2 separate regions of the Homo sapiens genome follow, and region 2 is linked to region 1. A link means that fine-mapping ties the variant in region 1 to the expression of a gene that starts in the linked region. Tissue or cell type: lung. Region 1 holds a variant in brackets; the other region holds the start of a gene. All regions are shown on one strand. Distances are from middle to middle.

Evidence for each region. PIP is the estimated chance that this variant, and not a neighbour inherited with it, causes the effect. A credible set is the group of variants that fine-mapping cannot tell apart.
Region 2: MYO1H starts here. The variant in region 1 is the best candidate, but not a certain one, in a credible set for the expression of MYO1H in lung (TOPMed, PIP 0.59).

What each region holds. Positions count from the first base shown.
Region 1 is chr12:109,431,610-109,436,006 of GRCh38, reverse strand. MYO1H (myosin IH) reads right to left here. Exons shown (of 32, transcript NM_001101421.4): 20 at 2,997-3,110; 21 at 894-970. Among named protein-coding and RNA genes, the nearest start is that of KCTD10, 43 kb to the left of the region's middle. RefSeq lists an enhancer at 1,738-2,242. The variant A/G (reference allele first, on the strand shown) is at 2,354.
Region 2 is chr12:109,346,036-109,350,432 of GRCh38, reverse strand. It overlaps MYO1H (myosin IH), which reads right to left and starts at 2,533. Exons shown (of 32, transcript NM_001101421.4): 1 at 2,461-2,533. The coding sequence starts at 2,472.

The DNA.
Region 1 (4,397 bases):
AGGTCCTATCAGAGGCCAAGCTCATCAAGAGCCTTGCAGAGCAGCCACATCCTATTCCCCACGAGCTGGTTAGAGATGCTGGCTCAGGCCCCACTGGCCTAACTGTGGCCCTTCAACCAGATCCCCAGCCATTGGTGCCCACTGCTACGGAGGTCAGAAAATGAGACCACCAAGCCTTGAAGCCAGACAGACCCAGGTTCAAACCGCAGCTAGGCTGCTTACTTGCTGTGTAGCCTTCAACAAGTTACCAACACCTCCGTGCCTCAGTTTCCCTGCATAGAAAGCGGAGACGATAGCACCTATGTCACCTCCCTTACAGGTCTGTTCTCAGAACAGAATGAGACCATGGTTTAAAGGACTTAGTGTTCACCTGGCGCACAGCAGGCCCTCAAATGACTCAAGCGTAGTTCTTGACAGACCGGTTACATTTCAAAAGAGACGCTCCCTCCCCCCGCAGTTTTGATTTTTTACTTTTTGCATTTCCCCATCTAACTTTTCTCATTGACCATTCCCAGCAAACACCCAGGCTGCAGGCTTTGAAGCTAAACTTTCCAACATCAGACACGCAGACAAGTGAAGTTTTGTAAACTTTAATTTCAAGGGGCTGGTCTCTCACGGTTTTACACCCTAGTAGTGAACAACAGAATCTGATCCAAACGAGAACTGAAACGGCGGAACAATGTTTATATATCTGCCTGCATCTGTGACTGACCTCCAAGCAGTCATTAAAGCAGAAATTCACAGGGATCTTATCATAATCCCATATCTCGTTCCTAGTTTCCAAAGCGAATGCTTCTAACACTATATCAAACACCCGTGTTTAAGATTTACCCCCAAGCTCCACTTGTTCATTTCATATTCTATTGAAATCGGGACAGAAAAAGAAATCATACCTAGTTGATGTTTACTAAATTCAAAGGCATCTTCGGTAGCAAACAGAGTTCTGGGGAAACGAATGAATATTTTGGTTCTAGAAGTGAAAAGAAATGTTTTTGTTATTAATTGGTCAGTTTACCATCTAGTGGGTTGAACGGTGCCCCCTTCAAAAATTCATTTCCACTCAGAACCTCAGAATACCATCTTATTTGGAAATAGTGTTTGCAGATGTGATTGAGGTAAGGATAGAAATGAGCTCATCCTGGAATAGGGTGGGCCCTAAATCCATTGAGAGTGTCTCTATACACACAGAAAGACACAGGGAGGAGCCCACGTGAGGACGGAGGCAGAGATTGGAGGGACACGGCTACAGCTAAGCAATGCCAGGAGCCACCAGAGCTAAAAGAGGCTCCCGCAGGAATGTGGCCCTGCCAACTCTTGATTTTTGGATTTCTGGCCTCCACAACTAGGAGAGAATAGATTTGTTTTAAATCAGCCACTTTGTGATCATCTGTTACGCAGTCCTAGGAAATGAATAAACCAACGTAACCTGAAGTTGCTTCAAGTTATGTTGCTAGGCTTTAAAGAGTGACGACAAAGAATATGGGTGTTTTTGTTTGTTTTTTGTTTTTGTTTTGAAACAGAGTCTCAGTTTGTTGCCCAGGCTGGAGTGCAGTGGTGCAATCTCGGCTCACTGCAACCCCCATCTCCCAGGTTCAAATGATTCTCGTGCCTCAGACTCCCGAGTAGCTGGGATTACAGGCACCAGCCACCACGCCCAGCCAGACAAATAATGTGGATCTAAGCTTAAAAGAAGATCACGCTGGGCGCGGTGGCTCACGCCTGCAATCCCAGCACTTTGGGAGGCCGAGGCAGGTGAATCACCTGAGGTCAGGAGTTTGAGACCAGCCTGACAAACGCGGTGAAACCCTGTCTCTACTAAAAATACAAAAATTAGCCCATTGTGGTAGTGTGCACCTGTAATCCCAGCTACTCGAGAGGCTAAGGCAGGAGAATCGCTTGAACCCAGGAAGCGGAGGTTACAGTGAGCCGAGATCATGCCACTGCAGCCTGGGTGACAGAGCAAGACTCTGTCTCAAAAAATAAAAAAATAAAAAGAAGATCACAGTAGCCAGCAGAGAGAAGTTACAAATACTGACCTCACATTGCCTGCCCGACCCCAGGCCTGGTGAGGGAAAGTTCCCAGGGCAGCCACTGGGGACAGCAGTGGGTGGTGCCTGGTGATCCCACTCTCCCTTGTCCCTGTTTCAATTTATGGAACAGGGGACAGACGGATCCCACCTCTGACCTCCATGCCCTGCCTCCCTCAGGATGTGCTGAGCCTTGCAGAATCCCCTTGGAGATCTGGACTGACTAAGTAACTGATCCTTGGAACAGGCCCAGAATAGGAGTCTACAGATGGAGAGAGGCCAAGGCGGCCCAGACGACCATGTACAAGTGGGAGTTAGGAGTCAGC[A/G]GGGAAAGCCCATGAACAGGATCACAGGCAGAGCTCTCTGGAGTGGGGAAGCCCTGCTGTCGGGGAATAGATCTTCATGCTGAGACACCTTTCCCTGCAACCTCATTAACCCTGACCAAAATGACGCACAAGACGGACTCGGATCTTCCCGATTCATGTCCCTTGAGTTGTGCCTGAAAGCTTTCAATGTGTACGAAAGTCTCTGCTCATGGATAACTACAACTCTACAGTTAAGAGTTCCAGCACACCATTTCTGAGATGCTACAGATGATCTCACATTGTCTAGGTCCCAGTAGCTCCTCTGGCAGGTCATGCGTACATGGGAACAGTGAAAGAATCCAGGCACACGGACGTTAGGTGCCCCCTCTGGTTCCCTCTTTGTTTTGCTAGCAAGGAGGCCCATCTGCTAAATCAGTTTAGTGCGGAAGTTTCCTTTATAACTTCATTTCCTCCCACCGGCAGCACCATAGCTCTTCTAAAGAATTAAGAGCTGCATTTACATCGAGTAGATGAAGCATAAATCTCGCAAATCTCCATAAATCCCTAGGAATCGAGTCTCCAGGCTCTAGATGGATACGGATCAATGCACAAAACCCTTTGATGTCAAGGGAAGAGACCATTTGGTGGTCTTCTGGTCACTTACTTGCCTAACTTGTATTCCTCGGGTTTGTAGCCGATGTACTTGATCAGCCGTTCCACGCCCTCTGCTGGAGGCCCGTGCCAGTGCGGCCAGGTGTCTGGGCATAAGGACTTGTACCTAGGAGAGGAGATGGACATGGAGAAGCTGTGACCGTACCTTCCTCTAGCCCTCCCCCACATCCCCGGCCCCAGAGGCCTGCTGAGCACTGCTGTGGCATGTCGGCCACTCAGTGTATGTAGTAGTCCCATTACACGAACTTTCTCGAATTCAAAGATGGGTACTTTGCAAGAAAGAAAGGAGAGAGAAACTGTTTCAATATAGTAGGGAGTTTGACCTGTCTTTGTAGAACAATGACATCATCAGACGCTCAACCCAGTGACTCAATTCCACTCCTAGGTATCTGTCCAAGAGAAATGAAAAGGTGTCCGAACATTCATACCTGAATGTTCATAGCAGCCATTGGGTGTAGCAGTGCATGGTGCTATGATTCATAATAGCCAAAAGGTGGAAACAACCCAGATGTCCATCGACAGAAAACTGAACAGACAAACAAACATAGTCTAGTACCAGAAGAAAAAGTTCTATGCTTGAGACCGGGTATGGTGCCTCATGCCTGTGATCCCAGCAATTTGGGAGGCCAAGGCAGGAGGATCACTTGAGGCCAGGCATTTGAGACCAGCCTGGGCAGACCCCGTCTCTACTTAAAAAAAGGCCAGGCGCAGGGGCTCAAGCCTGTAATCCCAGCACTTTGGGAGGCCGAGGCGGGCGGATCACAAGGTCAAGAGATCGAGACCATCCTGGCTAACATGGTGAAACCCTGTCTCTACTAAAAATACAAAACAAAATTAGCCAGGCATGGTGGCGGGCACCTGTAGTCCCAGCTACTGGGGAGGCTGAGGAAGGAGAATAGTGTGAACCTGGGAGGCGAAGCTTGCAGTGAGCCGAGATTGCGCCACTGTACTCCAGCCTGGGCGACAGAGCAAGACTCCATCTCAAAAAAAAAAAAAAAAAAAAAAAAAAATTTTTTTTTTAGCCAGGTGTGGCAGTGTGCGGCTGTAGTCCCAGCTACTCAGGAGGCTGAGGCAGGAGGATCGCTTGAGTCCAGGAGGTTGAGGCTTCAGGGAGCACTCCAGCCTGGGTAACAGAGATCCTGTCTCAAGAAAGAGTAGAGAAGAGAAAGAAAGGGTTCCATGCTTGGGAAGTGATGAGGGCTTCCCCCGTCCCCCAGGGGTAATTTTGGCTCCAGTGTTAAGAACCTGATTCCAGCATGCAGTTCCCTTCTACCCTGCAGTCCCTAGAAAGAGAACCGTGATGTCTGTAGTATAATGAAACAACTGAACGCAGAATTCAGAAGTGCAGATGGATCAAGGCTGGAAGCAGCACAACCGGAGCCACTGGCGTAGA
Region 2 (4,397 bases), 86 kb after region 1:
CCATCAGATCTCATGAGACTTATTCACTACCATGAGAACAGTATGGGGGAAACTGCCCCCATGATTCGATAATCTCCCACCGGGTCCCTCCCACAACACGAGGGAATTATGGGAGCTACAATTCAAGATGAGATTTGGGTGGGGACACAGCCAAACCATATCAGGAGTTTATGGATTCCCTACAACCCAACTAACTTGGAGAGAAGAGGCAACTGCCCAGATGATTTGCATAAAGTGAGCTTTTGAATGAATCACCTGCGAACTAAATATGCTACCATGTGGACAATGACAATCAACGGCACGAAGCAAATGCTCGCTAAAATCAGCATTGTTATTCATGGTGCTTCAGTTCTTCATTTTGCTTTGTTCATCAAACTCAGCTCCTTCTGAGGTCATTTCTGAATGGTTCCATCTCTAATATTTAATATAATATAAAATAATATAATAATAATATTAACTTTTTTTTTTTTTCAAGACAGAGTCTTGCTCTGTCGCCCAGGCTGGAGTGCAGTGGCGTGATCTCCGCTCACTGCAAGCTCTGCCTCCCGGGTTCACGCCATTCTCCTGCCTCAGCCTCCCGAGTAGCTGGGACTATAGGCACCCCCTACCACGCCCGGCTAATTTTTTTGTATTTTTAGTAGAGACGGGGTTTCACCGTGTTAGCCAGGATGGTCTCGATCTCCTGACCTCGTGATCTGCCTGCCTCGGCCTCCCAAAGTGCTGGGATTACAGGCATGAGCCACCGCACCCGGCCTCTTTTTTTTTTTTTTTTTTGAGACAGGGTTTCAGACTGTCATCCAGGCTGAGTGCATGGCATGATCACAGTTCACTGCAGCCTTGATCACCCTAGCTCAAGTGATCCTCCCACTTTAGCCTCTGGAGTAGCTGGGACCACAGGCATGTGCCACCATATCTAGCTACTTTTTAATTTTTTTGGTGGGGGGGTCACACTATGTTGCTCATGCTGGTCTCAAGCTCCTAGTCTCAAGGGATCCTCCCACCTTGGCCTTCCAAAGTGCTAGGATTATAGGCACAAGCCACCATGCCCAGCCCAGTTTGTTCTTTTTTAATCTGGAGTAAACTCTATCCAAATAATGTTTTACCAAAGGAATCTGGGAATTAATTCATAAGAAGGAAGAGCTTCCTCCATTTTTCAAAAAAGTGTAACTATGTATAAGTCAATCTGCATGGTTACTTCTACGTGCATTTTGTAAAGCCATGACAATTTAAAAAAAGGCACATGCGACCTTGAGGACAGACCTATCTGTTGTCTTTCACTGCAAGACCTACAGCAAATACTCCTCTCTGTCCATCAACTAAATTATTTTCTCCCAATGAATCATGCTTCCTAGAGTTACCACTTTGAGATATCATGCAAGAATGGCATCTAAAACCAGGACTTTGTTATGGGCATTCAGATACATTTTCGGTCAAGGACAGTGCCATTTTGAGTTACCAGTTGCCAAGGTGACAGTATTCAGTGCTATAGAAATGGGTAATTGACTGAATGGATCAATGACAAGCTGTAGCTAGGGTTTCTTCATGGTGCCTGAGGCTTCTGTGAACAGCTACGAAATTATTCTAACTACATCCATAAATGTTTCTGTAAGCTTTTTGGCTGTCTAGGCAAGAAAAGAAACAATCCTTCAGCAGATAATGTTTTCTAAACAGAGAACACATGAGATGATTATGCTATCGAAACCCAGAAAACCTGTCCTTGGAAGTCTTTATGCTTAGAATTAACTCCTGGAAAGAGGCAATAGGTTTGACACTCAAGTTCTGTCTTCCATCTTCCCAGGAGAGCTTTACCATTGTCTACCTGATAATAAAAACAGCTGTCTTAGCTTCTTAAAATGATCATTACCTGGGACAAGTTGGGCTTATCGCATTTAAAAGGAAACACAAGGTATCTAGGGTAATGAAGAAAATGTACCAATAGTCTTACATGTAAGGCCAATTATTACCTACAATTTCCTTCAACATGAGGTCACCATCTATTATTTAAGACCCAACCATGCTAACACAGTAGCCACTAGCCACATGTGGCTATTTAAATTAATGAAAATTCAGTCAAATTTACAATTCAGTTCCCCAGGAACCAGCCACAGTTTAACCACTCAGTAGTCACACATAGCCAAGAGCTCTTGCATTAGGCAGTGCTAACAGAGACCATTTCTGTCTTTATTGCACAGCACGCTGTTCTAGACCAATGTGAAATGAATCGGTAACTCTCCCATGCTTTGGTTCTAAATCATCGTACTTGCCCCCAGCAACAGAAGGGAGATATCTACATGATCATCTTAACATAGAATTTTTCATCAAATAAATTCAGAATCTTATTCACACGCCCAGTTCTCTCTCCAGGCCTAGCAGAGGCCCAGCATTATAGCCATTTGGAAAGTTCTTGGTAGAAAAGAGGTCACCAGGTGTAACCACCTTCTAGTGTTCAAGTCACATTACCTTGGATTCCATCACGCACAGAGGGAGAGCAGGTTGTTAACAACTATTCCTCTTGAGCCATTCAAAAGTTGCTTCCCACTGACTTATGATTCTGTGATGCCTGACATCCAGCAACAAGGTATGAGGCGATTCTAGCTTGCGGGGTGGAGCTAAGTTAATAATTTACGGTGGGAGGCAGAAACTGCATCTTATGGCCGTCTACATGTAGGCACACCGGGCTGCTCCAGGGAGATAAGAACTGGAAACCCAACCTCCCTTGAGTTTACGTTACAGACACTGCTGATCTTTGATTAGTTGCTTATGTTCCTGACCAGTCACTGACTATTGAAATAATGGCAGGACCCTCGGTGAGCTATGCTTAAAAAAAAAGAAAAAAAGAAAAAAAAAAGAAAAGAAAATTCTCCCAATCTCTTAGCCTAGGATCCAGCTCCAGGGAACTCCTGCTGGAAGTACCTGTTGGCTCTGTTTGAAAAACTTTACAGCCTTAAATTTCATGGAATCAAGTTGATTGGGTAACTTCAAGGTTTCATAATACGGAGACTCAGGACTTTACTTTCATTTTATTATTATTTTCAGATGCTGAAGTGATGCAGGGGCACTATCATCTCATAAAAAATCACAAGGTTGCTGATATTGGAGGCTGTTCAGTTACAGATGGGTTTACCATGAAGCTCAGAGTTCACCCCTTCCTGGTCTGGGCCTCATCGTATAAAGTTCTATTCTTGTTCTTTCAGACAACCCCACCCATCACCCACCACATTGTATGCCTTGGGCCCCCAAACTTGAGCCTGCTGCTGCAACAGGATCATGGCTAAGGGTATGGACAGTGGATTCAGTGCTGGGTTCATTCGAACCTAAACAGCACCCCCTGTTGGATGGAGGACTGTGGGTCCAGCGACTGACCTCAGGATTTCATTTATTAATCCCATTTCATGTATCTCTCTCTCTGTATATATATCCTATTGGAGAACCCCTAACACAAGCCCTGACAAGAGCAGAAATATGCTAATAATTCTTTGGACACTCTAATTTTTGATCAATTGACTTTTTTAAAGAAATGATTCCATTTTTGTAACTGAATAGGTAATATAACATATCCTTGATTTGGTTACAAAGGGACAACCAGAAATAGTATACTAAAAATGTTTTTTAAAAATATATAATTTTATAGACATATATTTTAGTTTTTAAATATAATTTATTTTTTTCTTGAGATGGAGCCTTGCTCTGTTGCCCAGGCTGGAGCACAATGGCAGGATCTCAGTTCACTGCAACCTCCGCCCCCCAGGTTCAAGTGATTCTCCTGCCTCAGCCTCCTGAGTAGCTGGGATTACAAGGCACCCGCCACAACGCCCAGCTAACTTTTGTATTTTTAGTAGAGATAAGGTTTCACCATGTTGACCAGGCTGGTCTCGAACTCCTGACTTCAAGTGATCCACCTGCCTCAGCCTCCCAAAGTGCTGGAATTACAGGTGTGGGCCATCGCGCCTGGCCTATATGATTCTTCATACATTTTTGCATATCTGAAATATATTTTTAATTGAAATATAAATCACGTATAACATTCACTTATTTATACAGTTCATTGTTTTTTAAGTACAGTTGTACCTCAGTATCTGTGGGGGATTGGTTCCAGGACCTTCAAAAATCCATGGATGCTCAATTGCCTGATATAAAATGGCATAGTATTTGCATATAACCTATGCACATCCTCCTGTACACTTTAAATCATTGTCAGATTACTTATAATACCTAGTAGAATGTAAATGCCATGTAAATAGTTGTTATACTACATTGTCTAGGCAACAATGACAAAAAAGTGTCTGTACATCTTCATACAGATGAAAATTTTTCCCTGAATACTTTTGATCCAAGGTTGGTTGAATTCATGGAATTGGAACCCATAAATATGGAGGGACTATTATAGATTCACAATG